Homo sapiens: one gene and its partners. The protein of the gene in region 3 purifies or fractionates together with the protein of the main gene of each other region. This does not show direct contact. Each region holds a gene or a part of one and is shown on either strand. Other genes may lie near its edges.

Region 1 (7,000 bases), on a different chromosome or scaffold from region 3:
CTAGATGTATTCCCTTCTATCCCATCTTCCCCTTGAAACACATAGTGGGAATGTCCCTGAAATGGACAGCACCTATGCCAGGTCCCTGGATCTGGATCCTGGAGGGCTGGAGGTGGTTGGGGTTCATTCTTTGCTGCTTATTTGACAATGTCTCCCTTTTCAGGGTAACCCTGGAACAGATGGAATTCCTGGAGCCAAAGGATCTGCTGTGAGTGTTGCCCGTGGACTTTGCTACCCCAGGAGAGCCCAGTCCTGCCTCTCCCCTCTCCTGACACCCCTCCCTTCTTCTCATGCCCACAGGGTGCTCCTGGCATTGCTGGTGCTCCTGGCTTCCCTGGGCCACGGGGCCCTCCTGGCCCTCAAGGTGCAACTGGTCCTCTGGGCCCGAAAGGTCAGACGGTAAGAGCCCAAAGTGACCCCCAAGTTCCACTGACATCTCTGGAGTCAAACCCCATCACCCCTCTTTCCCATGCTCTCCTGCCCTGGCCTCACAGCGGCCTCCATCCGAGGGCATCTTGAACAGGGGTTCTGGGGAGGGGCAGGCTCCCTGGAGAGAATCTGGTGTGAGGACCTGCCTCTCTTTTCAAGGGTGAACCTGGTATTGCTGGCTTCAAAGGTGAACAAGGCCCCAAGGGAGAACCTGTGAGTATCTGCCCCCAAGCCCTTGTCTTCTCTGCTGCTGTTCTATGAGGCACAGGCCTCAGCCCCACTGACCCACCACCTCCCTCCTCCAGGGCTCTATCCCCCAATCTGGGTCCTTTCAGATTATGCCTGGAGGAGACTTAACAGGGCTGAGAAGGCCCAGATACAGCTTCAGCTCCCATCCTTGGTTTGGCTAGTGTGAACAGTTGGATCTTTAGCCCCTCTCACTTCCCTCTGCCCTGCCATGGCTCGTCCTTTATGGCCTCTCGTCCTCAAGCCCCCCCCCAGCCCTGAAACAGTTGCCAAGGCTACTTCCTTCATACTCTGAGTCGAGGCTTGCTCCAAGGCCAGGTGAAGGCTCACTCTGTTTCTCTTTTTTGCTGGTCCTCAGGGCCCTGCTGGCCCCCAGGGAGCCCCTGGACCCGCTGGTGAAGAAGGCAAGAGAGGTGCCCGTGGAGAGCCTGGTGGCGTTGGGCCCATCGGTCCCCCTGGAGAAAGAGTTAAGTGAATGTGGAGGCTCCATCCCATGGGGCCTGTGACCTCGAGAGGGAAGTGGAGTCCTTGTGGTCCGTGTTCTGGTCAAGTCTCGTGACTTTTCCGCATGTCATCCTCCTCTTTCTCCATCCACACCGCGGGGAGAGGGAGTCTGATCCTGATTTGTGCCGCCAACCACCAGACTGACATGAAATAGTCTGAGCTCCTTCCCAGGAAGCGGGGCAGGCTCCAGAAGTTAACCTCTGAGAATCCTGCAGGCCACAGCTACTGCTCCCCAGAAATTGGGGTTGGTGGGTTAGTGGGATGGACCCACTGGAGCCTGGCTGGGTTGGGGCTGTTCTCACTCACTGCCTCTCCTCCCTGTGGCTCCTTAGGGTGCTCCCGGCAACCGCGGTTTCCCAGGTCAAGATGGTCTGGCAGGTCCCAAGGTGAGTGGGAGAAGAGGGGCTGGGGTCCCTCCCTGCATCGCTGAGGTCACATGGTATCCCACTGACTCCCTGTGTACCCTTGTAGGGAGCCCCTGGAGAGCGAGGGCCCAGTGGTCTTGCTGGCCCCAAGGGAGCCAACGGTGACCCTGGCCGTCCTGGAGAACCTGGCCTTCCTGGAGCCCGGGTAAGTAGCAGAGCTGCTGTTGCCCTTGGCTTCAGACCCTCAGGCCCTTCCTGGCTGGCTCCTTCCAGCCCTGCACTGCCAGGATTGGGAGGTCCTGGGGCCGGCTCCTGACCCCACCCTCTTCTCTCTCCTGAACAAAGGGTCTCACTGGCCGCCCTGGTGATGCTGGTCCTCAAGGCAAAGTTGGCCCTTCTGTAAGTCTATCCTCTGAGGGCTGCTAGGAGGGTGGGGGGATCTCCCTGGGGAAGCAAGGGAAAAGAGAGATGGAGTTTGGGTTAGGGAGGCCTGAAGTACTGTGAATTTTGAGAATTGTGACAGGGGGTAGATGGTAGGCACTGGGGCCAGATGTAACCTGTGCAGTAGCTGTGAGCACTGAAAATGCCACCCCAGTATGCATTCGGGGCTTATCCTTGGGGGAATGATGACATCGTGTGTGCACTTTCTGGGGCAGCTTTCTAAGCTCAGCGGTGTCTTGTTGTAGATGGGCCCATGGGTGTGATGTGGTCAATCCTAGATGCTGAGCATGTGTGGCTGGTGCCTAGTCCTGGGCCTGCCATGTAGGCCCTTAGTGGATGTTGGGTGGATGGATGTGGTCAGAGTGTCTATGTTCTGAGAATGGTGTTCTGTCTTTCAGGGAGCCCCTGGTGAAGATGGTCGTCCTGGACCTCCAGGTCCTCAGGGGGCTCGTGGGCAGCCTGGTGTCATGGGTTTCCCTGGCCCCAAAGGTGCCAACGTAAGTAATAATTTGCTCTTCTATTTCCTTCCATGTGGTGCTACCTACCTCCCTGCCCTCTTGGGGAAAGGGCTGGGTCCTGAGTAGAGTTTAACCAGGGACAGTGATGAGTGGGGCTCCTGTGCCATGGGTGGCAGTGGGGGTCTGTATGTGATTTGGGGAAAATCCATGGCCCCACAGAGCCTCGGGGCATTGCGGCCATAATTGTTCCATGTGGCAGTGCCCAGCAGGCTGGTTGCCATTATGGCCCCTGAACAGAAGAGAAGGGCTGATACTTTGCTTTATCTTGGCTGTCCATCAGGATGTGGCCCCAGGCCTCAGTCCCTGCAGCCCGCTCTGCCCCCAACTCCCTCCCAAACCATCCGCCTCATGGCCCTGCCCTCTCTTTCCTTCAGGGTGAGCCTGGCAAAGCTGGTGAGAAGGGACTGCCTGGTGCTCCTGGTCTGAGGGTAAGTATCCTTCCCCGCTGCCCATGACTTGGTGTTGGCCGGGCATCTGCAGGGAGGACAGGGGAACGGCCTCCCCATGGCATGGTCCCGGGACCCCTCAGTATTGAGTGTTGATCTCTGTGGCTGAGCCCCATGCTGGCTGGGCCCTTTGGGTGTCTACACAGGGAGACTTCTGTTTGCCATTGGTCAGCAGGCCGGGGAGCTGGGGAAGGCTTCCATGCTGAGAACAGCTAAGAAAAGACGGGGCCTGGGAAGGAAGGGAGGGGAAGGTGTGGAAATGGAGCTCAGCTGGGGTACCGTGGAGGTCTGGAAACTCTGGGCCAGAAGTACCTTTGCCCAATCCTAGGGGGACTGCAAGTGGGAAGAAAAGCGTGTCATTGACTTTTCTTTTTCTCTTCTGTCTAGGGTCTTCCTGGCAAAGATGGTGAGACAGGTGCTGCAGGACCCCCTGGCCCTGCTGTAAGTACCTGCCCAGCCTCCCCAGGTGGCCCTGGGGGCAGGGGCTGGGAGGGGTGGGGGTGGGAGAGCCCATCCATTAATGGAGCTGACAGATGTGAATGTGGGCTGAGCTGATACACCAGACTCACTCTGAGCTGAGGCAGGGTGTCCCAGGAGGCTGTGTGGACCCACATTGGTGGAGAGGAGTGTGGGTGGCTGATGGGAGTGCAGGGAGGCATGCATGCACTGTCTGAGTGGTGCAGGAAGACGCCTGTGCTGCCCACCCTGCTGACCTCCCCTGGGCCCTACTAGCTGTGGCTCTCAGGGTCTCTGGAACACTGGCTCAGCTCACCTTTTCTTTTCCACTGCAGGGACCTGCTGGTGAACGAGGCGAGCAGGGTGCTCCTGGGCCATCTGGGTTCCAGGTAGGTGGCTGGACCAGGCTCTCTGTGCAGTCCTTTGCCATACCCAGGGCTCCCTGGGACAGCAGCAGGCACTATCGGTGGAGGGCCCACACCTCTTGCAGGGTGCCAGGCATCGAGCCTTCCCTGCACCCCTGGCTGTCACTGCTGCTGCTTCCTTTCTTTGGGTCTGCCCTATACTGTGCCTCCCTGGGGGCCAGGGCAGCAAACTCACTCCTTTGCTAACGCTTGTCACTTCGGCTTCTAGGGACTTCCTGGCCCTCCTGGTCCCCCAGGTGAAGGTGGAAAACCAGGTGACCAGGTGAGTATGGGGCTCTTTGGACCTGCAACCTGTTTAGATGGGAAGGTCTTTTCTGATGCCTAGGAGGCAAGGGCAAGAGGGCATGAGGAGCCCTGTGAGGCCTGGGAATGTCCTGGACCCATGTCCCAGCCTCCACAGATGACACAATCCCCCATGGGAGGAGTGATATTCAGCCCTGCTGTGGAGAATTGTTCAGGGGTCTGTGATATGAAGCCTTCACTCTCACACATCTTTCTTTGTTCTCCAGGGTGTTCCCGGTGAAGCTGGAGCCCCTGGCCTCGTGGGTCCCAGGGTGAGTATCCTGTTGGCCAATGCGGGCTGCCTCCTTGGGCCTGCCCTGGGTCCTATGCTCCTGCTCCTTTCCCCACCTCCCTGCTTCTCCCTGGACCTTCTCCCCCACTGCTGTTGGTTGATCACTTCTTGGTGTCTCTGCCGCAGGGTGAACGAGGTTTCCCAGGTGAACGTGGCTCTCCCGGTGCCCAGGGCCTCCAGGGTCCCCGTGGCCTCCCCGGCACTCCTGGCACTGATGGTCCCAAAGTAAGTGAGGCTGCATCCTGTAGGGGTCTTCGTGGTAGCCTGGGAGTCCCACTGAGCAGGGAGAAGAGGAGCGGGCTCAGGAGGAATGAAGAACAGAAGTGGGGGGAGCTGGAAAGGAGGTCTACATGGGAGGAAGGGAAGGAAGAGGGGTTTGGGGCCCTGGTTACCCAGGCTCCATGAACATGGGTTCAGGGAGAGGTGCTGTCCACTACAGACTCCCTCTTACCTCCCTCCCCAGGGTGCATCTGGCCCAGCAGGCCCCCCTGGGGCTCAGGGCCCTCCAGGTCTTCAGGGAATGCCTGGCGAGAGGGGAGCAGCTGGTATCGCTGGGCCCAAAGGCGACAGGGTAAGTACTGAGGTTACAGCCTCTCACCAAAGCTGTGGCTTTGCCACATTCCTGCCCCTTGTGATCGCTTCCGTTCCCTTATGGCACCTGGTGATGAAGGTTTCTGTTAGCCCTTTTTGAGGAGCTTAAAGACTCCTTTCCAAAGCTCCCTGCCTTTTAGTGACATCCTTTCCCCTGTTCCTTCATCTCACCCCTGCTGCTCCTCACCCACCCTGAGACCACAGCAAATTCCTCTTGGGCAGGGACTGGGCTTTCCCTAGCACCCCAGCCTGGGTGGGACTGAGCAAACCATGGGGGTCCTGGGGTGCCTGGCTGAGGCGGCTGGTTTTCTCTTCCCTCAGGGTGACGTTGGTGAGAAAGGCCCTGAGGGAGCCCCTGGAAAGGATGGTGGACGAGTAAGTGAATGCGGGCTGCTGGACTGCTGGGCATTAGGATCCTAGCCCTGCACCCAGGAGAGCAGGAGAGAGGGCTGGGCAGTCTGCCACTGGGGTCCCTGGTCCTGTCTCTGTCGGGGCTGGGCAACTGCAGGGACTTCTCTGTTAAAATGGGGCCAGAGGGTAAGTGGGAGCTCTGGAGGCGGTGGGAGCACGCACCAAGGTTGGCTTGGTGCCGGGCCGCACGTGCTCGGCTGGCTCAGCCTGCCTCCCTCACCTCTACCTGCTCTCCCCGCAGGGCCTGACAGGTCCCATTGGCCCCCCTGGCCCAGCTGGTGCTAATGGCGAGAAGGTGAGTCCCGGCTCCTTTCCTCTCCACACCTTGCCTCCCTGTCACACCTCCTTCTTATCTCCTGCCAAAGGCGGTTCTGTCTTGTCCTCCCTCACCACTGTCACCCTCGGCCAAGGCCGTAGGAGTGAAGAGGGGGCCCTCTCAGAAGTGAAGCCGCTGGCAGTGTTCCCTGTTGGGTGGGGCAACTGGGCTGGGGTAAACACACATTCAGCAGAGGCCCTCGAGAGGGTGCGGGTATGGGCTGCACAGTAACACAGGCTGTGCCAGGGGGACCTGGAGCCCCCTTCCCACGAGCAAGGCCCCCCAAATGCACTTTGCCCTCTCCCACTCTGCCTCCCCACCTTCTTACCCCAGCTCTTCCTCCCTTCCCCACCCTCAGGGAGAAGTTGGACCTCCTGGTCCTGCAGGAAGTGCTGGTGCTCGTGGCGCTCCGGTGAGTGTCTGCCCCTCTGAGCCTGGCTCTGCCCGAGGCCCCTGGGAACCAGAGAGCCAGGGAGTCAGTGCAGGCCCTCATGCTGCCTGGTGGCCCTGTGTGCTGCCAGGCACTGGCTCCCTCCCTACCCGCTGGGTCTAGGGTGGGAGGAGAGATGGGAAGGGAAGGGGGAAGGCACGTCACTCCCATCATGTGTTCAGGGTGAGGGCTTTTGGGTTAACAGAGCCTCTGCCTGCGTTCAGGACTAAGGCTGCTTTCAGATCCCCGTCTCTGGGGAACAGGAGGCTGGGCAGGGCCCAAGGGGCTCTTGGAGGGGAGCAGAAGCAGGTCAGGCAGCGGGGCCTGACCTCTCGCCATGCCCCCTTCTCTCACAGGGTGAACGTGGAGAGACTGGGCCCCCCGGACCAGCGGGATTTGCTGGGCCTCCTGTGAGTATCTCTGTCCATCCTCCTGGGTCCCTCCACTCAGGCCAGTTCCACATCCAGCACCCTCGGGCATCGGAGCTTGTCAGGGAGGGAAATGGATGCTCCTCTCCTCTCCTTTCCCGCCTCCATACTAATAGAACCATCATGTCCAGACCAGGACACACACGCAGATACTCACAGAGTCTCCTGCTCTTCTGGAAGAGCTCCAGGGTTTTAGCCTGCCCCTCATTCACCTGCTTCCTCCTTCCCATTATAGGGTGCTGATGGCCAGCCTGGGGCCAAGGGTGAGCAAGGAGAGGCCGGCCAGAAAGGCGATGCTGGTGCCCCTGGTCCTCAGGGCCCCTCTGGAGCACCTGGGCCTCAGGTGGGTAACGCTGCACTCCAAGAATTGTTCCCTCAAGGAAGGGCTCCTGGCGTGCAGATGGGAAGGCCCCAGCAGGC
Region 2 (7,453 bases), on a different chromosome or scaffold from region 3:
TGGGTGTGGTGGCGGGCGCCTGTAGTACCAGCTACTCCAGAGGCTGAGGCAGGAGAATGGCGTGAATCCGGGAGGCGGAGCTTGCAGTGAGCCGAGATCGTGCCACTGCACTCCAGCCTGGGTGACAGCGAGACTCCATCTCAAAAAACCTCAGTGGTAGTTGTCTGCTATCTAAGGCTAACAATAAAAGGCTGTTACAGAGCTGTATGGCAGGGCCACCCCTGTATGGAGGGCAGACTCCAGACCTGTAGAGCCATCAGCATGCAATACTTGCCTGAGAGAGCCCAGGTACCTCTCTTCAACTGCTGAGAGCTGCTGGGTTGGAACTGTGCCCATCAAAACCATGGGGTAGGGCTGCCCCGGGGCTTTGGGGGTCCAACCCCCAGCCCAATGCATCCTGAAGGCAAGATACTGAGTCAAGAATTATTCTCAAGCTTCAAGAGTTAATGTTGTTGGCCTTTTGGGTTTTTAACTTACTTGGGACCTATTACTCCTTTCTTCTTGCCTATTTCTCCCTCTTGGAATGGGAATGTCAGTCCTGTTCCTGACCCATCATTGTGTTTTGGAAGCACATGTATTTGATTTCACAGGCTCACAGCTGCAGGAGAAGTTGCCTCAGGATGAGTCATGGCCTTGAGTCTCATCCATATCTGATTTAGGTGAGACTCTGGACTTTATAGTTTTGAGTTGGTGCTGGAATGAGTTGAGACTTTTGGGGCTACTGGGATGGATAAATGTATTTTTGGGTTTTTTTTGTTTGTCTTTTGAGACAGTGTTTCCCTTTGTCCCCCAGGCTGAAGTGCAGTGGTACGATCTTGGCTCACTGTGAACAACTTCCGCCTCCCAGGTTCAAGCAATTCTCATGCCTCGGCTTCCAAGTAGCTGGGATTATAGGCATACACCACCACGCTCAGCTAATTTTTTTTATTTTTAGTAGAGACAGGGTTTCACCGTGTTGGCCAGGCTGGCCTGGAATTCGTGACCTCAAGTGATCCGTCTGCCTCAGCCTCCCAAAGTGCTGGGATTACAGGTGTGAGCAACAAGCGTCCGATAAATGTATTTTGCATGTGAGTAGGACATAAATTTGGGGGGCCAAAGGCGGTAAGCTATGGTCTGACTGTGTCCTTCAAAATTCATCTATTGAAAATTGCTAATGTGACAATACGAAAAGGTATTGGAAATGATTAAATCATGAGTACAGAACCATCATGGATGAGATTAAGGCCCTTAAAAAAAGGTTTGAGGGCCAGGCACAATGGCTCACACCTGTAATCCCAGCATTTTGGGCGGCCAAAGTGGGCCGATCACCTGAGGTCAGGAGTTCAAAGCCAGCCTGTCCAACATGGCAAAACCCCATCTCTACTAAAAATACAAAAATTAGCTGGGTGTGGTAGAGGGCGCCTGTAATCCCAGCTACTTGGGAGGCTGCAACAGGAGAATCGCTTGAACCCAGGAGATGGAGGTTGCAGTGAGCCGAGATTGTGCCACTGCACTCCAGCCTGGGTGACAGAACAAGACTGTCTCAAAAAAAAAAAAAAAAAAAGTTTGAGGGAATGGGTTCCTTCTCTTCTGCCCTTCTGCCATGTGAGCACACAGTGTTAAACCCCTCGGATGAAGCAGTGTTCAAAGCACCATCTTGGAAGAAAAGACTGAGCCCTCACAAAACACCGAAACTGCTGGTACTTTGATCTTAGACTTTTGAGCCTCCTGAACATGAGAAATAAATTTCTGTGGTTATAAATTACCCATACTAAGGTATTTTGTTACAGTAGCACACATGGACTAACAGAGGAGCTAATCAACATTTATAGAATACTCCACCAAACAACAGCAGAACACTCTTTTCAAGTGCTTACAGAACATAAACAACATAGACCATATCCTGGATGACAAAATATCAACAAATATAAAAGAATTGAAATTATACAGACTGTGTTCTGACTACAAGGGAATCAAATGAGGAATCAGTAACAGTCAGATAACAGGAAAATTTCCAAATACTTGGAAACTGAACACACTTTTAAATGAGGCATAGGTCAAAGGAGTCTCAAATGAAAATTTTCTAAAAAGCATTGAACTGGGCCAGGTGCGGTGGCTCACACCTGTAATCCCAGCACTTTGGGAGGCCAAGGTGGGCGGATCACCTGAGGTCAGGAGTTTGAGATCATTCTGGCCAACACGGAGAAACCCTGTCTCTACTAAAAATACAAAAATTAGCTGGGCGTGGTGGTGGGCACCTGTAATCCCAGCCACTCAGGAGGATGAGGCAGGAGAATCAGTTGAACCCAGGAGGCAGAGGTTGCATTGAGCTGAGATCATGCCACTGCATCCAGCCTGGGTGTCACAGCGAGACTCTGTCTCAAAAAAAAAAAAAAATTATCGGCTGGGCACGGTGGCTCACACCTGTAATCCCAGCACTTTGGGAGGCTGAGGCGGGCAGATCACGAGGTCAGGAGATGGAGACTATCCTGGCTAACACAGTGAAACCCTGTCTCTACTAAAAATACAAAAAAAATTAGCCTGGTGTGGTGGCGGGTGCCTGTAGTCCCAGCTACCTGGGAGGCTGAGGTGGGAGAATGGTGTGAACCAGGGAGGCGGAGCTTGCAGTGAGCCGAGTTGGCACCACTGCACTCCAGCCTGGGTGACAGAGCAAGACTCTGTCTCAAAAAAAAAAAGAATTACCACAGATGAATGGATAAGCAAAATGTGGTATACACATATAATGGGATTTTTTCAGCCTTAAAAAAGAAATTCTGACACATTCTACAACATGAATGAACTCTGAAGACATGCTAAGTGAAACAAGCTAATTACAAAAGGACAAATACTGTTATGGCTCCACGTACATTAAGTACCCACAGTAGTCAAATTCATAGACAGAAAGTAAAATGATAGTTGTCAGAGGCTGAGGGAAGGAGGAATAAGTTTTTGTTTAATGGGTACAGTTTCTGAAGATGGTAACAATTGCCCAACAATGTGAATGTACTTAATGTGACTGAACTGCACATTTGAAAATAATTAAAATGGGGCCAGGCGCAGTGGCTCACGCCTGTAATACCAGCACTTAGGGAGGCTGAGGTGGGTGGATCACTTGAGGCCAGGAGTTGGAGATTAGTCTGGCCAATATGGTGAAACTCTGTCTCTACCAAAAATACAAAAATTAGCCAGGCGTGGTGGCGGGCGTCTGTAATCCCAGCTACTGGGGAGGCTGAGGCTGGAGAATTGCTTGAATCCAGGAGGCAAAGGTTGCAGTGACCTGAGATCACGCCACAGCACTCCAGGCTGGGCAACAGAGCGAGACTCCGTCTCAAAAAAAAAAAAAAAAACCACAAAAACAAAACAAAACAAAACGGGTTAATGGCCTCTCTGTAGTCACTGAATCCCAATAGACCATACCTGGGTTCAGTAATTTATATTTCTAAAAAGATCCCAAGACTTAGAAATCACTGATGTATATCATCAAACACATTGGTCAAGCTTACAATACTATATATAACCTAAGCATTATCACAGAACGTAATGTAACTTTTTTTTTTTTTGAGACGGAGTCTCCCTCTGTCGCTCAGGCCGGAGTGCAGTGGCACACTCTCGGCTTACTGCAACCTCTGCCTTCTGGGTTCAAGCAATTCTCCTGCCTCACCTCCTGAGTAGCTGGGACTACAGGCGCCCGCCACCACGCCCGGCTAATTTTTGTATTTTTAGTAGAGACAGGGTTTTACAATGTTGGCCAGTCTGGTGTCGAACTCCTGACCTCAAGTGATCCGCCCGCCTCAGCCTCCCAAAGTGCTGGCATTACAGGCGTGAGCCATAGCGCCCCGCCCGTAATGTAATTTTGGGGGAAAGATATGAGTGGCTTACATTTCAAATATTTCTGAATTTTTGAGTTATCTCAACTTGAAGCAAAGGCCCAGCAGTTCGATATCAGGAGTAATAAACGGTAAAGAAAACAGAAACAAATTACAATCAAGCAATGCCAATCAGCAAGAGAGTGTGACATGGCCCTTTTTAAGCCAGAGTAAACTCTTGTGAGCTTGCCACTAACTCCCATTTTAACGAAATTATTCATTTTAGGAAACCGCAAGGTTTTTTTTTTGTTTTTCTTTAATTTTTTTAATCTTTGCAAGAGCTGTCAGATAAGAAGGTTGTATTATTTATTTGGTTCCAGATAAAATTTTGAACTATATCGAAATTATAGACTGGCTTTCTGGAAAGGAAATGGTCCTAGACAATTTATAGGCTAATGAGCAGAGACCCACCTTAACAAAATTTTGTCCCCAAAACGAAACAATAGAACACACGTGGGTGGATCCTAGTAGGGAGAAGGGGTGGGCGGGGTCAGGCACAGGGGGCGGAGCCAGCCCCACGGCGGAGGAGAGCCCAGTCCGGTCTCCGCCTCCGTGACGTCCCGGGAAGCACCGCCCACAGCTGCCCGGGACTCCAGTGATCGCCGCGGCTCGCTCGCGCCCCGGAAACTGCCCCTTCTCGGGGGTCATGATGGGCAGCAAGATGGCGTCTGCTAGTAGGGTCGTTCAGGTAAAGCAATTTGTCGCGTTTCCGCATCTTGGGCGGTAGGGACGGTGCTGACTATGGCGACGGCGTCGGGGAGTAAAGGCGGTGGCAGAGGCAGAGCGGTGACCGCGCCTCTGCGGAGGGCCAGTGACGGCGCCCGCGGGTGTGTGTGAGGATGGGACTTTGAGCCTGTTGGACCGGGCAGTGAGGTGGGTCCGGCGCCGAGGGTTCGAGCCTTGCGGCAACCGTGCAGCATCTTGGCAGGTAGGTCCTGTACCTACTGCCGGGATCCCCCGCTCCTCCGCCAGGACCTTGTTAGTCTTAGGCGTGTGCGGGTGAGGCGACCCTGGCGGTAGCCTGGCCAATCGCCGTCTAGGATTGGCTGTGGTGCCCCCGATCAGCCAATCGGAAGGAAGGCGGTAGCGGGGCGTGGAAGGAAGCGAACCCTGGATCTGACCCACTGTCCCTTCAAGGTCTCGGGAATGGTCGGGCAACTGGCCCCGCGTACTGCGTCCTCGCCGGAGCGGGTTCTCCCCAACCTCTCCAAGCGTCTGGCTACAGGCCAGATGAGGGAAATAGAAAAGTAAACTTAAGTTTAATTAGTATGTGTGTGTGTATATTAATGTGTGTGTGTGTGTGTGTGTGTGTGTGTATAAGCGTTGGTTTCACAAGCCTATTTTCCCCTGGTTTAGATAGACAGCTAAAGTAACTTTGTTAATCCACCTATCAGCTACTAACTCCTGATAGCCTTTTTATTTGTTTCTTCAGCTGTGGTTCTAACTTAGGTAAAATTATTATATAAGTGGAACACAACCTCCACTTTTGTGGTTGGTTTACATAGTCTTTGAACCCTGAAACTATATTATTTTATAATTGACTTTTATCTTTGATATGAGAAGTACATTCCGCTTTATATAAGTACATCTCTTAAAAGACCTTTTTCTAAATTCCTGAAATTGTTGTCTGAATGATAATCCTAGATCCCAGTCTTTGGTCCCATTGCAATGAATGATCCTTACTTATTCAGTAGGTAGTTACTGAGCATCAACTAGTTAAAGATTCTGTAAGGACTGAGAGACTGACAAAGGTCTGTTATCCATAATATATAACCATATGTATCAATAATATATAACAATTTAAAAATGGGTAAAAGACTTGGCGTGTTGCACAAAAGATACCCAAATGAGCAATGAACATTTTAAAAGGTGCTCAATATCATTACTTGCCAGGAAAATAAAAATTAAAACCATGAGGTCCTACACATCCACCAAAATGACTAAAATTTAGACGTCAGTGGTGATGAGAATGTGAAGCGTCTGAAACCCTCAATATTGCTGGTGGGAATATAAAATGTTATAGCCACTTTGGAAAGCTGTCAGTCTCTAATAGTTAAGCATGTATCTACCGTATGACCCAGCAATTCTACTCATAGGTTTATTGCCCAAGAGAAGTGAATGCACATACTGTCTCTGTACGTAAATGTTCACAGAAAAAAAAGAGTTACTAGCAAAGAACTGGGGTCCAGAGCTGAGGGGTTCCAGCCTGGCAGCAGGAGTGTGGCATCTCAGCAGGCAGGTACTATATATACTGCCATGGGGTCCCTGGCTCTATTTCTGATAGCCCCCAAACCACAAACAATCTCTATGTCTGTCTTTTGCATAAACAAATTGTGGTAGTTTGTTAAAATAGTACAGTCCAAAGCAATACTAACAGCTGATGTGTGCAAACAAATGAAGAAACTGTGAGATATACAGTAAGGAATGGTCTGTGCCCTTCTAACATAGGAACAAAGACCTGTACTCACCTATTTAGAATTCAAATCAGGTTCGTGATTGCGCTCTTAAAAAAAAAGAAAAAAAGAGAGAATACAACCAATATGCTAATATAATATCACTTGAGCCTAGGAGTTTGACGCTGCAGTGAACCACAATCACCCCACTGCACCCCAGCCTGTGTAACAGAGCAAGACCTGGTCTCGAAAAATAAATAATAAAGTATGTGCTAATATTATGTAATAATTACATATAACATTAGCAAAATTTGTTGAGTATCTCTGTGACAGGCCTATAAAGCTAGGACTACAGTGCCAGTTAGAGTTTAGGCCAGGCTCACTGATGTATGCCTGTAATCCCAACACTTTGGTAGTTTGAGGCAGGAGGATGGCTTGAGCCCAGGAGTTCAAGACCAGCCTGGGCAAAATAGCAAGACCCCATCTCTATAAAAATTTTAAAAAATTAGCTGAGCATGGTGATGTGCACCTGTGGTCCCAGCTACTCAGGAGGCTGAGGTGGGAAGATTGAGCCTGGGTGATCAAGGCTACAGTGAGCCATAATCATGCCACTGCATTCCAGCCTGGACAGTAGAGCTAGACCCTGACTCAAAAAAAAAAAACAAAAAAACATAGAGCTTAGAATTTGGTTGTTGATCCATATCTTGAAGGAAGAGAAGAGTGCCAAAAGACTGATTGGTACAAACTGATAGGAAGTCACAAAGCGTGGTCTCAGAACATTAAGTAAAGACAAAGCCAGCTGGGCACGGTGGCTCACACCTGTACTCCCAACACTTTGGAAAGCCAAGGTGGGAAGATTGCTTGAGCCAGGAGTTCAAGATTAGCCTAGGCAACATAGCAAGACCCCATCTCTATAAAAATTAGCCAGGCAGCCGCCCCGTCTGGGAAGTGAGGAGCGCCTCTGCCCGGCCGCCCCGTCTGGGATGTGAGGAGCGCCTCTGCCCGGCCGCCACCCCGTCTGGGAAGTGAGGAGCGCCTCTGCCTGGCCGCAGTGCAATCTTCCAAGTGTGAAGTGACAGCCTTTCTGCAGGTGTACCCAACAGCTCTGAAGAGACAGCAACCATCGAGAACGGGCCATGATGACGATGGCGGTTTTGTCGAAAAGAAAAGGGGGAAATGTGGGGAAAAGAAAGAGAGATCAGATTGTTACTGTGT
Region 3 (7,298 bases):
ATTCAAAATCTCTTACAGCTAGAAGAAATAATTACAACAAAAGAGGAATGCTTCATCCAGTGGTGTACTGGACCACACATTGTTAAATTTTCAGAAAGTTTGCAAACCAGTTGACATGTTGATAGCTTGGAATCCATAAAAACAAAAATCACGTTAATCCCCACCACTCTAATGACACCTCATGTGGCAGTTTTACATGTTTTTAATAGCTGTATCATCAAGTGGCTATACTGCAGTTTACTTAACCTTTCCCTTAGCTTAACAACATTTAAGCTGTTTGCATGGTGGGAGTATTTAAACCATAAAAATTGGCAATGCTACCAACTAGGGTTTTTCCCACAAAGAGCCAGTTATTAAACATTTATCAGCACACTACTGACCTTATTTCTCATCCAAAACAAAACCAAATATAAAGGGGAGACTCAAACTTTAGCCCTTTGGCCATGAGAATACATTGAACATACTCCCTCTTTTTTTGAGACAGGGTCTCAGTTGCTTAGGCTGCAGTGCAGTGGTGTGATCATAGCTCACTGCAGCCTCAACTTCTTGGGCTCAAGCAATACTCCCTGCTCAGCCTCCCGAATAGATGGAACTATAGGTGTGCACGACACCACAACTGGTTAATTTTTTGATTTGTTGTAGAGATGTGGTTTCGCCATGTTGCTCATGTTGGTCTCAAACTCCTGGGTTCAAGTAATTGTCCTACCTCAGCTTCCCAAAGTGTTGAAATTACAGGCATGAGACACTGCTCCTGGCCAACATATTTTGCTTAGCACATTTTTATCCTACATTGATACATATTACATTAATCAGTTGAATTTATCTAATTCTTTAATTAAAGAATAAAAAATATAACCAGCCATGAGCATTCACTAAAACAGACCACTATTTTGAAGATTTTACTATGAAAAAAAGAAATAATAAAAAATCAAACCTTTTTTAACTTGAATTTTATAAAAATAACCTACCATGGTAGTTTTCATTATTAGAACTCTTTGGAAATAAATTTGGCAACATACATCGAAGGTCATTGAAATATTTGTACTTTTTTTTTTTTTTTCTTTTTTGAGAGGGAGTCTCGCTCTGTCACCCAGGCTGGAGCGCAGTGGCGCGACCTCGGCTCACTGCAAGCTCCGCCTCCCAAGTTCACGCCATTCTCCTGCCTCAGCCTTCCGAGTAGCTGGGACTATAGGCGCCCAACACCACGCCTGGCTAATTTTTTATATTTTTAGTAGAGATGAGGTTTCACCATGTTAGCCAGGATGGTCTCAATCTCCTGACCTTGTAATCCGCCCGCCTTGGCCTCCCAAAGTGCTGGGATCACAGGTGTGAGCCACCGCGCCTGGCATATTTGTACTGTTTGACTCAGTAATTCCACTTCTAAAAAGCTATCCTAAGGATATAATCTTAAATGCTGAAAAATTATATTAATCATGACGGTCACGATAGTTAAAAAGTTGTGAATAATTTAAATGTTTTTCAAACCGAGATAAAGGTTAAGTAAATTGGAACATAGCCACTTGATGATAACACAGTTACTAAAAACGTGCAAGTTTCTATCTATGATGTTGTTACGGTGATGGGGATTTAACATCTGTCTTGTTGGTTTTCTTTTAAACTTTTTTTAATTTCTAAGTTTTTCTATAGTGTTCTTATGTTAGTTTTGTAAGGACAAAAAGAATTAATTAAAAATAGTAATTCCTGAATCAGGAATTGGCTAATTTGACGTTTCTAAGGCTAAGCTCTTTAGACTATTTTTTTCATAATAAATTAACACAGAAGAGCCCAACTGGGTGTAGCATTGGACCCAGATTTACTGCCCTTCCTAAAAAATGCTTGCTCTGGGAACACAATGACACGCATGTTTCAAGGGAGTAAACAAGAGAAAGGTGAATGGGACTACTGTTGACCGGGTGTTGCCTTGTTAAAACTAGTAGCCTTAATTCATTTAAGCAAAAGACTTGCCTTAGGGGTGATTCCGCACCAGAAATTAGAATACAGGCCCCGAGACTCCAGCATGGGGGCCACAATAGTTTTGTTTTCTGCAATCAGTAGATTGAGGGTCTGTGGATTAGTCAGGAAATTGTCAACATCTATGAACTAGGAAAAGAAAAGGATAATGTTAGGTGAAAAGGTACTTTTCAGTAATGAGTTTGAGAATAACCCAGCCCTTCTGAAGGATCCCAGAAACTTGCTCATGACATATGGAACCAGCTATCTATGTCCTCCTTATTGAAACCCATTGCAGCTAGGTGGCTTTCATTCAGTCAAAATATATTTAGTCTAACTTTCGTATGTTGGGCTCTGCATAAGGCACTAAGCAGTAAATTGGTGCTGCCATACTGGGCATAGCCTCAACCAGGAACCAACCTACACTTTGGCTAGTGTTTTAGGCACAAGATATTAATGGCTCCCAAGCCATTAAAGGTTCATTCAAAAACACTTATTGGCTGCCCAGTCTAGGTACAGATGGGCATGCCTACTTAGCTTTTCTATAGTAATGCCAGAGTAGCTCAAAACAGATCTATCAATGAATTTTAATGTGACAAGTAGAATTTTTGTTTAAGTACATTATATCAACCCATGCTAACCAGTGAAGCTATTTCCTATTCTTAGAAGTCCATGTTAACAGTGATTTATTTAGAGACAGTATAACAACAGATTCTAATTTATAAAAGAAATAATCATACTGAACTATACACTGAAAAAGGGATAAACTGACAGATTTTACCTTTTGTAGGTTTTATCACAATAAAAAATTCAGAAGTCTTCATTTTTATGATAGTCCATCTGTTTACCCCAAATTTTGTGATTTAACATTTGTACACTTCAATGGCATTTAAACAGCTACACAATGTTAAATATTGTCAGTACAATTTGAAAACTTCTATGAAAGGATTTGTGTCACAAGTGTGCGTGATACATTTTTGGGCAGATTTTCACTGTGGTTGAGGGGATGGGGATGGACATAAATTCTCCAAAGAGAGCATCACTGTGCCAAGCAACAGATGCTACTCCCCAGATCATTCAGGAGCAAAAGGGAACCATTTCAGAGCTGTTCAGCTGAATCACTTTTTTAGATAATTACTTTTTCATATCCCCCAAATTCTTCCAAAAAGTTGTAAGAACAACTTACATTGCTTTACCTACAGCCTTTCCTGTGAGCTAAAAATATGCAGAGTTCTTATGCCTGTTGCATGGCAGAGACCAAATAATTCAGGCACTTCTTCACTTACCCACTGAAAATGCATGTGGGCCTGAAGATGAAGTCCAGGTAGCCCAATTTTAAACTACCAAAAATTTCATTGTGCCTTTCTTAAAAAGTGGGGGAGGCACTGCCTAATCAAAAAGGTTGTTTTGATTGCTTCCATGGTTCTAGTTTTTGGACGACTGATTTGGATACACCTGAGATGACAGTTGTCAAGAAATCAAACATCTGTTTTTACCAGAATGTAGTCTGACCATTTTTCCCTCGCAGTTCGAAGGGCTGCCTGTCGTAGTTTCATCACATGGGCAAACCGGGAGGTTGGCCAGTGCTTTGGTCCAATTTCATCAGGGTAAGACCTAAAATAATAATAATAGCTCATCATTATTGAGTGCCTACATGTACCAGGCTCTGTCCTAAATGTTTATATGTATTCATTTAATCTTCTATCAATCCCAGGAAGTAGATACTATTATTATTGTTATCATCATCCCCATATTACAGATGAGGAAACCGGAGCAATGAGAAGTCAAGTAACTCACTGCTCATTGTATACAAGAATCTTTACATGAAATATTTCAGTGGGTTCTAATGAGAGCCCTTTGAGGTGAGTACTGCTATTCTCTGCATTTCACAGGTGAGGATATCAGGGTAGAGCAGTTAAGTCATTCGTCCAATGTTACACAATGGGGCACAATCAAGATTTGAATCCAAGCAAAAAGCTCATGTTCCTAGACAATTTTTATACATCCCGACATCGAATAGATTTGGAGAGTATGCAGTGTAAAACATGAGTTTCCCAGGAAAATCAAAGGTTTAATCTACTTGTTGGAGTCTCCACAAATGATTCCACACAGCCTAACACATTGATCTATCTTAGGTAAAGTGAGGTCGTGGGATCTCTATCAAGATTCACAAAACAGCCAGGCCAAGACTCCTTCATGGCCACATAGGCAAGTGGGTTGGAGCACGCTCCAAAACCCTTCTGAAGGCACCCAGCTGGCACGGACATTGATACTGTTGCAGTAACCCAAAACTGGCCACCACTTCAAGATCTCATAGCTGCACTGGCAGTACATTTGTTTTAGTGAGTGAAAAACTGCAAAAACAATGAGACTGTAACTAAACAAATAAGGTTAATAAAACTATGTACAGCACAGGAATTCTCTGGAATATCTTCCCCAGTTATTGTTTCAATGAAAATCAGTGGAATTCTCATTTTTCTAAATATATTCCCCCCAAAAATGCCTGTTCTAATATTTTTTCACACTGACCTTGGCATATAATATATTTAGTCAAAACCTGGCTGCAGAGAACATTACCAAGGTGCAAAGAAGGGACACAAAGTATTTCTGTGCCATTTTTGTTAGGCCAAACTCCATTATAAGGCACTCTAAAGGAGTGTTTACAATCTTTTACGGTGTTCAGACTTCACTGTTAAATTTTGCTTGATATACAGTCCATGGGCTTGGATTTGAGAAACACATATGTATATATTATATCATATTTATATATATTTCTTTATAATATAAATATTTATAATAATTCTTACATATAGAAAGACTAGAAGAACAGAAACTTGTTCTGGAATGGCATTTATTATTACTATAATACAAATTTGGCTTTCAATAAATGACTTCTCTGGGGAAGAAATTCAGGCAACTCCTTCATTCTATTTCTACAGTTCCTTAAAGTAAAACTGTAGTAGCTTTGGGAACATTTATAATAGTAAGTTTTAAATACATTTATTCTTGTTCTTATTTGTTCATCCAACCAGTATTAATTTAGTGCCTGCCAAGAACATGGCTCTGAGGGGAGAGGGGGAATATAAAGTGTTTATATATTCTAGCCCCTGCCAAAGAACTTACAACTTATTTAGAAAAAAAATACATTAATTGCATAGGGGGAAAATGTTGGTTGCGTATATCATTGTGCCAAAAAGGATGACATAGAATATAAGCAATACAATTGTTGAGACAAAGGTAGATATTTATAACTGAGTGATTAAGAATAGGTTTCTATAGTAGGCATGATTTAGGATAAGAATTAGTTATAAAGAAGGAAAGGGTCTTCCAGGACCTGCACAAGCAACAGTGTGGGGTTTGGAAATAAAAGAAACGTTCTGGATAAAGCACATTTTCTTTTGGTGCTAAATTCATGGAATTTTAAAAATATAAGTCTTAGGTGTTTGAACTTTGTTCAGGTCCTAAAGAGTAAGTGAAGTATTTTTAATAAAGAAATGAAACCATTTCATTTGTATTTGAGGTAGATTGATTTGACTGTATGGTATGTAGGATGACTTGGAGATAGAAGCAATTAATAAATTGCTATGGTGGCCGGGCACGGTGGCTCACACCTGTAATCTCAGCACTTTGGGAGGTCAAGGCGGGCAGATCACAGGGTCAGGAGATCGAGACCATCCTGGCTAACATAGTGAAATCCCCTCTCTACTCAAAATACAAAAAAATAGCTGGGTGTGGTGGCACACACCTGTAGTCCCAGCTACTCGGGAGGCTGAGGCAGGAGAATTGCTTGAACCCAGGAGGCGGAGGTTGCAGTGAGCCAAGATTGCACCACTGCACTCCAGCCTGGGTGACATAGCAAGACTCTGTCTCAAAAAAAAAAAAAAAGAAAGAAATTGTTATGGTAACCAGGCACAAAGGCTCACACCTGTAATCCCAGCACTTTGGAAGGCCAAGGTGGGAGGATCGCTTGAGGCCAGGAGTTCAAGACCAGCCTGGACAACATGGTGAGATCATGTCTCTACAAAAAATAAAAATAAAATTAGCCAGGCATAGTGGTGCATGGCTGTGGTCTTAGCTACTCAGGAGGTTGAGTGAGGAGTATTGCCTGAACCCAGGAGTACGAGGTTACAGTGGAGCTATGGTCATGCCACTGTACTCCAGCTGGGGTGACAGAGTGAGACCCTGTCTTGAAAGAAAGAAGGAAAGAGAGAAAGAGAGAGAGAGAGAGAGAGAGAAAGAAGAGAAGAGAAGCGAAGAAAAGAAAAGAAAGAAAAGAAGGAAAAGAAAGAAAGAAGGAATTTCTATGGTTAAGATAGGAAATTACCTAAATGAGCATCAGTAGGGGATCAATTAAATAATTATGGTAAATGCACATACAACAGTGATTATGCAGTAAAAAAAATGAAAATTAGCTCCTTAACTATTGCTATAGAATGATTATCAAGATAAAAGTTGAAAAAAGCAAGCTCTATGTAGAAAGTATACACATTTTCAATATGATCCTCCAAATATAAAAGTTTGTTTAAAATATGAATAAATAATATCAATATTTAAAAATATAAACTGTCATGGCAATTTATTTATGAAGTAATGAAAATCTGAACTTGGCTGGCAGCTGTGGGAGTAAACAGCAAGAGAGTACTGTGAAGATCTCTAAAAGGGAGAAATGGCAGATATTCAGAACTCACATAGCTACAGAAATGAAAGACAATGAAAAGTCACATGTACCTCCAAACCTGGAAGCCCTAAAGAGCTAGTTAAAGAGGAAGGGTAAATAATGAGTTTACAAATTTCGCACTTGCTACTCACTCTGGTTCATCCATAGGCCTCCACTCCACATAGTGATAGAGTCTCTGTACATTTTTCAACCACTCCCTGAATATTTCTGTTGTATTATCCACATTGTGATCAGTGGCTGCCCTGCATGAGAGAAAGCACAATATAGTTTAACTATGTCATCCAATGAAAGAGAGGGAAATCCAAAAGACCCCTGACTAACTGAAAGAAGAATGGCTACTCCTGGAAAAAAAATTGTATATATGAAAATAATTCCCTCATAGTCCAAACTAGACAATAAATTTCCAAAGTGAGAGACACTGCTTAAAATCATCTTTGTGTCATTAGATCCTAAAACAGGGCTCAGCCAATTGGAGAACGTGTAAATGGTTGCATTAATAAATAAACACATGAAAACACCAAGAGAGTGTAAGCATAAAATGAATTAACTGAGAGTCAATTAATGAATCTTCTTGGAAATTTTTCTATATGTTTTAACTTTCAGTTACCCAGGATGTAAACTCCACCTTTTAACTTCATTAACAATGACCCTCAATTTGAGCAATAATTCT
Region 4 (7,298 bases), on a different chromosome or scaffold from region 3:
CAAAAAAAAAAAAATTATATTACACATTCCATGTATCTCTTAATCTATGTTTGCTCACACCACCACCAGCCTAAATCAGGCCTCTTTCATTGCCACATGCTTGCGCTCTGTGGATGGTTTTATTAACTCCCTAAGTGGACTCCCTGCCTCCTGTTTCTCTGGTCTTCAGATTCCTCTAACATTTCCAGCTGATTGGAATGCTTCAATACACAAAAGCTTTATTTTTCCCTGTTAATTAGAGGATCAAGGCCACACTCCCCTAAGCTGGCATTTGGAGCCCTTCCTGCTCAATTCTAACCAACTATTTTGGTCTATTTTTCACCATTCACCTACCTCAAGATTTCCTACCCTCTGTTGACCATTTTGAGTTTGGGAAACTAAAAAATAAATAAACATTTAAAAAGGCCAAACGTGGTGGCTCACACCTATAATCCCAACAGTTTGGGAGGCTGAGGCAGGTGGATCACCTGAGGAGGTCAGGGGTTCGAGAACACCCTGGCCAACATGGCGAAATTCCATGTCTACTAAAAATACAAAAATTAGCCAGGTGTGGTGGCATGCGCCTATAATCCCAGCTACTCGGGAGGCTGAGACAGGAGAATTGCTTGACCCTGGGAGGCAGAGGTTGCAGTGAGCTGAGGTCGTGCCACTCCAGCCTGGGCGACAGAGTAAGACTCTATCTTTAAAAAAAAAAAAAAAAAAAAAAAAACAGGCCAGGAGCAGTGGCTCACACCTGTAATCCCAGCACTTTGGGAGGCCGAGGCAGGTGGATCATGAGGTCAGGAGTTCAAGACCAGCCTGGCCAAGATGGTGAAACACCGTCTCTACTAAAAATACAAAAATTAGCCAGGTGTGGTGGCAGGCACCTGTAATCTCAGCTACTCGGGAGGCTGAGGCAGAGAATTGCTTGAATCCGGGAGGCGGAGGTTGCAGTGAGCCGAGATCACGCCACTGCACTCCAGCCTGGGTGTCAGAGGGAGACTTCATCTCAAAAAACAAACAAACAAAACAAAACAACAAATAAGATTTAAAAAAAAAGATTTCCTGCTCTCTATACTGTTGACTTTTTGGGCTGGATCATTCTTTGTGGTGGGGGCTGGCCTGTGCATTGTTGGATGTCTAGCAGCACCCCTGGCCTCTACCCACAAGATGCCAGTAAAACCCCTACCCTGAGTCAGATAACCAAAAATGTGTCTGGACATTGCCAAATGTCCCTCGGAGGGCAAAATCGTCCCCTTACTACACAGCCTATGCTCTCTTTCTGATCTTTGCTGGACTGTCCTCTTCATCCATCCATGTCAACACCCTACTCATTTGTGAAGGCCTGGGTGAGAGGAAACTCCCAGTGACTTTCCCCTCCCTGTCACTAACTGTGACCTCTCCTTCCTCTGAACAGACATTGAGATCGGTGTCAGGAGTGGTGGTGCAGGAATCGTATGACAGGGATTGTGGGGTGGGGGAGTGGAAGGGTGATGGGGTGAGGACTGTCCTGGGTTTGCTAAGTTTTCTGCAGTGAACGTGTGCTATTTTATTTTGTACTTAGGAGAAAAATGCAAGGTGGGGTTCTGTTGTGTTTGGCTTTGTTCAGCAGGAGACCAGGGGTGGTTAGGAGCCAGAGTGGAGGAGGCAGCAGAGAAGGGGAGTGAGGTGCAGACCAAGGTCACAGGTGAGCAGAAGGGTTGAGTGACAAGGAGTTAACCTGAGAAAGAAGGTGGGATGTCTTCTTCCCACTGGTACAGAAAACGAGAAGGCAAAATAGGTAAATATACAGAGAAGTGTCAACTGTGGATACAGATAATAAATAAGGTGACGGGCTAGACGATACTTAGTGCCCTCCCACCTCAGAGACTGTTTCTGTTAGATGGGTGGCTGGGCCACTTCTCAGCTGCGGAAGCTCATGTGACCTGTGAGTGACCCAACATATTGTGTCTCCTTCAGCTTCCTGGAAAAAAGGATTTATTCATTGAGGCAGATCTCATGAGCCCTTTGGATCGAATTGCCAATGTCTCCATCCTGAAGGTACTGTCCCTTTCCCCTGGGGGCCATGCCCCTCTTTAAGCAGTTTTTCTTTTGATGAACAATACAAACTACTGAAGAGTGACTACTCTTGTAGGGCAAATATAGGGTAGCTTAATTGGGTAGAAAAGGGAGATTGATGCTGTTCGTATTTTTTTGTTTTGTGTTTTTTTGCGGCGGGAGACGGAGTCTCTCTCTGTTGCCCAGGCTGGAATACAGTGTAGTGACACAATCACAGCTCACTGCAGCCTTGACCTCCTGGACTCAGGTGATCCTCCTGCCTCAGCTTCCCAAGTAGCTGGGACCACAGGCATGTGCCACCACACCTGGTTAATTTTTAAATTTAAATTTATTATTTATTTTTCTGAGTCTGTTTACTACAGAATATATATATATATATATATATATATATATATATATATATATATATATATATATATTTAATTTTGTAGAGATGGAGTCTTGTTATGTTACCCAGGCTGATCTCAAACTCCTGGGTTCAAGTGATCCTCCTACCTTGGCCTCCCAACGTGCTGGGATTACAGGCATGAGCCACCACACCTGGCCCATACTGTTTTTATATTGTTTTATTTTAGGTTTTTCTATTGACAGTTTGAGGAAAATTCAGTGGGATGGTCGTCAGGGGAGCATAATTAGCATAATTAGGAAGCCCTCAATAATTAGCATAATTAGGAAGCCCTCAAGAAGTCCCCTATCTTCGTGTCACACTTTGTGCTTTTCAGGCACTCTTATGTCCATTGTCTTATTGGATTCTCTCTGTAGCAACACGAAGTAGACAAGCTATACAAGGTGGAGAACAAGCCAGCCCTCAGCTCCAATGAACAGTGAGTGTCTGGGAGAGTCTGTCCCTACTCCAAGCTGGAAGAGGTCCCTAGGGGCACGTCTGCCTTTCATCTGTCCTTGGCTGAGATATATGGTTCACCTCCCTGAACTTTACAATTTCATGGCTAGGTTAATCTTCTGTTGTTTTGTTTTGTTTTCTGTAGTTTCCTTTCTGTGGTTTCTTGTCCTCTTCCCTCTCTAATTTATAATACAGTCTATAACCAGATTGACTAATCTTTCAAAATTATTTTCATCGTGCTTTTCTCAAGAACCTGCAAGGCAGCTGGGTGCGGCGGCTCATGCCTGTAATCCCAGCACTTTGGGAGGCCGAGGCGGGCGGATCTTCTGAGGTCAGGAGATAGAGACCAGCCTAGCTATCATGGTGAAACCCCATCTCTACTAAAAATACGAAAATTAGCCAGGTGTGGTGGCGTGTGCCTGTAATCCCAGCTACTCAGGAGGCTGAGCCAGGCGAATCGCTTGAACCCGGGAGGCGATGAGTTGCAGTGAGCCAAGATCGCGCCACTGCAGTCCAGCCTGGGTGACAGAGCAAGACTCCATCTCAAAAAAAAAAAAAAAAAAAAAAAAAGAAGAATCTGCAAGGCCTCTTATTACTTGCTGAAGATTGTCCACATTATTTGTCATAGACTTCAAGGCTGTCTGCAGCGTGGCCTCCCACGTTACCTTTCCAGCCTTGTCTCGTGTGTCCCCTTCAAGCCTCTGTTGACATGTGCTTCCACCTGCCTCTCAGCCTGTGCCTTCACCCTTTTCATCACTCCATTCGCTCTGCCTGAAATTCTCTCCTGTCCTCACTGCTCCTATAAAGAATGTCCATCCTTCAGAGCCCGGCCACCTCCTCCATGAAGCTCTCTGTTGCCCTTCCAGTCTAGAGTGATTTTCTCCTCTGGATTTCCATGGCATTTTGTATTTGTCCTGTTCGCTCGGCATGTAGTCATGTACAGCTGTTGTCTTGATTTTAAAGTATTTCTGAAACTTAATTAATGTACATGCTTTCTTAGAAGAAAAAATTCTCCTGGATACATGGAGAATATATCCATGTACCCCAGTTTGAAAAAAAATATTTTCTATTACTTTCTTATATTTAAATTTTTTTAATTAAATTTATTTATTTTCAGAGACAGGGTCTCACTCTGTTGCACAGGCTGGAGTGCAGTGGTGCAATCATAGCTCACTGCAGCCTTGAGCTCCTGGCTCAAGGGATCCTCCTACCTCAGTCTCCTGAGTAACTGGGATTACAAGTGTGCAGCACTGCATCCGCCTATAGTTTTATTTTATTTTATTTTTTTGAGTAGGAGTCTAACTCTGTCACCCAGGTTGGAGTGCAGTGGCGGGATCTGCCTCCCAGGTTCAAGCAATTCTTCTTAGCCTCCCAAGTAGCTGTGATTACAGGCGCCTGCCACCTTGCCCAGCTAATTTTTGTATTTTTAGTAGAGATGGAGTTTCTCTATGTTGGCCAGGCTGGTCTTGAACTCTTGACCTCAGGTGATCCGCACTCCTTGGCCTCCCAAAATGCTGGGATTATAGGCATGCACCACCTCGCCAGGCCTTATAGTTCTTTTATTTTACTATTATTATTTATTATTATTTTATTTTATTTTATTTTTTTTGAGACGGAGTTTAGCTCTTGTCATCCAGGCTGGAGAGCAATGGCGCGATCTGGGCTCACTGTAACCTCCACCTCCTGGGTTCAAGCGATTCTCCTGCCTCAGCCTCCTGCGTAGCTGGGATTACAGACATGCGCCACCATGCCCAGCCAATTTTTGTATTTTTAGTAGAGACGGGGTTTCACCATGTTGGCTGGGCTGGTCTCAAACTCCTGACCTCAGGTGATCCACCCGCCTCTGCCTCCCAAAGTGCTGGGATTACAGGTGTGAGCCACCATGCCCAGCCAATGTTTGTATTTTTAGTAGAGACGGGGTTTCACCATGTTGGCTGGGCTGGTCTCAAACTCCTGACCTCAGGTGATCCACGCGCCTCTGCCTCCCAAAGTGCTGGGATTACAGCACTATTATTATTTTTAATAGAGATGAGGTCTCACTGTGTTGCTGAGGCTAGTTTCGAACTCCTGAGCTCAAGCAATCTTCTCACCTTGGCTTCCCGGAGTGTTAAGATTACAGGTGTGAGCCACCATGCCCAGCCTTTATTTTTAACTGACAGATAATAATTGTATATTTTTATGGGGTATTCTTATATTGTTTTTCAGCACTGATTGTTAATATACTCCATATCTGCATCTTTTTTTGCCCACTGGATTGTAAATTATTTGAGAACAGGAACTTTTGGGTCCACCATAGGGCCAGTAATGTACCCAGCTCATCACATTATACCCATTGTGTTGAGAGGTATCTTCTGTGGTTGGTATATGGTGGACCAAGAGAATAGCATAGCTTTGGCTAGGATGAGACCTGTAGGGCAAATGGCAAAAGAGTTGGTATTGTTTCAGTTTCTTCTAAGTTGCTATCCAACTTGATAATTCTTCTTCACTGTTTTTTTTTCTTTCTCTCTCATAGATTGTGCTTCTTGGTCAGACCCCGCATCAAGAATATGCGATACATTGCCAGTGAGTGTGCCATGGTACTATGTGTAACTGTGGGAAAGGGCGGGCAAAATCTAAGGGCCTTGGCCATAAGGACCCTCTAATAAGAAAATAATTGTTTGAGTTGGCCGTAGCACTTGTGGAGGATGTCTGCTTCCCCGCTTCTTTTTTTTTTTTTTTTTTTTTTTGAGACGGAGTTTCACTCTTGTTGCCCAGTCTGGAGTGCAATGGCACGATCTCGGCTCACTGCAACCTCCGCCTCCTGGGTTCAAGCGATTCTCTTGCCTTAGCCTCCCAAGTAGCTGGGATTACAGGTGCCCACCACCAGATCGGGCTAATTTTTTGTGTTTTTAGTAGAGACAGAGTTTCACCATGTTGGCCAGGCTGGTCGCAAACTCCTGACCTCAGGTGATCCACCCGCCTCAGCCTCCCAAGTGCTGGGATTACAGGCGTGAACCACTGTGCCCGGCAGCTTCCCTGTTTCTAGCATAACAGATGGCCCATGACTTGCTGGGCTGCATTCCTTCTCTCTGTAGGTCTTGTCAATGCTGACAAATTGGCTGGCCGAACTCGCAAATACAAAGTGATCTTCAGCCCTCAAAAGGTGAGTTTGGATCCTGGAGGAAGTGGGATAAGGTAGAACAGGACTGAGGACCGGGCAGGGGTAAGGGGCCAACAGCACTACCTCCCTGTCTCCGTTCGTTTTCTGTTGCTGTAACAGAATACCTGAGACTAGGTAATTTATAATGAACAGAAATTTATTTAGCTCATGGTCTGGGGAGGTTGTGAAATCCAAGACTGTGGGGCTGGCATCTGGCGAGGGTCATCCCATGGCAGAAGGGTGGAAGGTGGAAGCCAGCACATGAGACCAAGAGACACCCAGGGGCTGGACTCGCCTTATAGCAACCCACTCCTGCCATAAGGACATTAATCCATTCATGAGGACTCCTCCCTCATAACCCAATCACCTGTTATTAGGCTGCACCTCCCAACACTGTTGCACTGCAGATTCAGTTTCCAACAGATGAACTTTTGGGAGACACATTCAAACCATAGCACTCCCTCAAAGCAAATTATGTGTGATTGAACCTAATACCTGTCACTAACGCATCCTCAATTCATTAACATATCCTCATTTGTTTAGCAGAGGGTCTGTCATCATACTGTCCCAAATAAAGTATTGTGGAATTGTGCGAAGAGGCCTCTACGTAGATTTTTTTAAATGAAAAGCTTCACGCTTGCGAGGTAGAACCTGCTCTGTATCCCTAACACAAACTCTAGTATAGTAATGGTGCACAATGTTACGGCTTTCCAGTGACTTTCTCCCTGTATCCCTTTAAGAATAAATACGATAAATCATCACCCTCCCTCTTCCCATCCGCTATGCTTATAAGGATGTGGCTGGGCTGCCCCTGGGTTACTAGAACCATGCCACCATATATTGGAAAAGCCTTTTCTTGCACAGGAAAGGAACCTTAGAGACTGTTTTACTCCACCCCAACTTTGAGCAGCTGAGGGAACTGAAGCCCATGCTCACACAGTGAGTTAGCACAGCCAGAGTAGAGCTCTTCCATCTTTAACTCAATAATTGCAGTACATATTTGGAGGTCCATCATAGTCTGTCCATTTCTTGATTCCATTGAGCTCCCCTCTCACCTCCACATCAGCTACGTGCATCCTCAATCCCAGTGATTGGGAGGAATGACGTTCCAGGCCTTTACCTTGCCAACCATAGGCCTCTAAAGCTACAGCAAGTAGTGCATGCATACTTACAGAAGGTAGAAGCTAGACTAGGAAGAACAGGGATTTATTCCTTTTCAATCTTTCTAAGAAAATTCTAGAGAAAATAGAGGCAGTAACTAAGGACTGAAGCCTCTGAAAC

What was found.
Region 1: the proteins of COLGALT2 (region 3) and COL2A1 purify together in Homo sapiens (affinity purification with mass spectrometry; 2 studies listed by BioGRID and IntAct, with this or other methods). This does not show direct contact.
Region 2: the proteins of COLGALT2 (region 3) and KGD4 purify together in Homo sapiens (affinity purification with mass spectrometry; 2 studies listed by BioGRID and IntAct, with this or other methods). This does not show direct contact.
Region 4: the proteins of COLGALT2 (region 3) and VPS33B purify together in Homo sapiens (affinity purification with mass spectrometry; 2 studies listed by BioGRID and IntAct, with this or other methods). This does not show direct contact.

Annotation. Positions count from the first base shown.
Region 1 is NC_000012.12:47,980,477-47,987,476, reverse strand, and holds part of COL2A1 (collagen alpha-1(II) chain isoform 1 precursor), read left to right. Parts: intron 1-163; coding exon 164-208; intron 209-300; coding exon 301-399; intron 400-588; coding exon 589-642; intron 643-1,033; coding exon 1,034-1,141; intron 1,142-1,511; coding exon 1,512-1,565; intron 1,566-1,650; coding exon 1,651-1,749; intron 1,750-1,889; coding exon 1,890-1,943; intron 1,944-2,383; coding exon 2,384-2,482; intron 2,483-2,877; coding exon 2,878-2,931; intron 2,932-3,336; coding exon 3,337-3,390; intron 3,391-3,740; coding exon 3,741-3,794; intron 3,795-4,038; coding exon 4,039-4,092; intron 4,093-4,339; coding exon 4,340-4,384; intron 4,385-4,530; coding exon 4,531-4,629; exon of another isoform or gene 4,630-4,680; intron 4,681-4,867; coding exon 4,868-4,975; intron 4,976-5,002; exon of another isoform or gene 5,003-5,062; intron 5,063-5,316; coding exon 5,317-5,370; intron 5,371-5,647; coding exon 5,648-5,701; intron 5,702-6,050; exon of another isoform or gene 6,051-6,080; coding exon 6,081-6,134; and 7 more. UniProt on the Homo sapiens protein: Type II collagen is specific for cartilaginous tissues. It is essential for the normal embryonic development of the skeleton, for linear growth and for the ability of cartilage to resist compressive forces.
Region 2 is NC_000005.10:69,213,339-69,220,791, forward strand, and holds the start of KGD4 (alpha-ketoglutarate dehydrogenase component 4), read left to right. Parts: upstream 1-4,421; 5' UTR 4,422-4,491; coding exon 4,492-4,533; intron 4,534-7,453. UniProt on the Homo sapiens protein: Molecular adapter that is necessary to form a stable 2-oxoglutarate dehydrogenase enzyme complex (OGDHC). Enables the specific recruitment of E3 subunit to E2 subunit in the 2-oxoglutarate dehydrogenase complex (OGDHC).
Region 3 is NC_000001.11:183,971,651-183,978,948, forward strand, and holds part of COLGALT2 (procollagen galactosyltransferase 2), read right to left. Parts: intron 6,871-7,298; coding exon 6,760-6,870; intron 3,565-6,759; coding exon 3,447-3,564; intron 2,101-3,446; coding exon 1,966-2,100; intron 1-1,965. UniProt on the Homo sapiens protein: Beta-galactosyltransferase that transfers beta-galactose to hydroxylysine residues of collagen.
Region 4 is NC_000015.10:91,012,526-91,019,823, reverse strand, and holds part of VPS33B (vacuolar protein sorting-associated protein 33B), read left to right. Parts: intron 1-1,938; coding exon 1,939-2,019; intron 2,020-2,759; exon of another isoform or gene 2,760-2,799; coding exon 2,800-2,861; intron 2,862-5,390; coding exon 5,391-5,440; intron 5,441-5,952; coding exon 5,953-6,020; intron 6,021-6,153; exon of another isoform or gene 6,154-7,298. UniProt on the Homo sapiens protein: May play a role in vesicle-mediated protein trafficking to lysosomal compartments and in membrane docking/fusion reactions of late endosomes/lysosomes.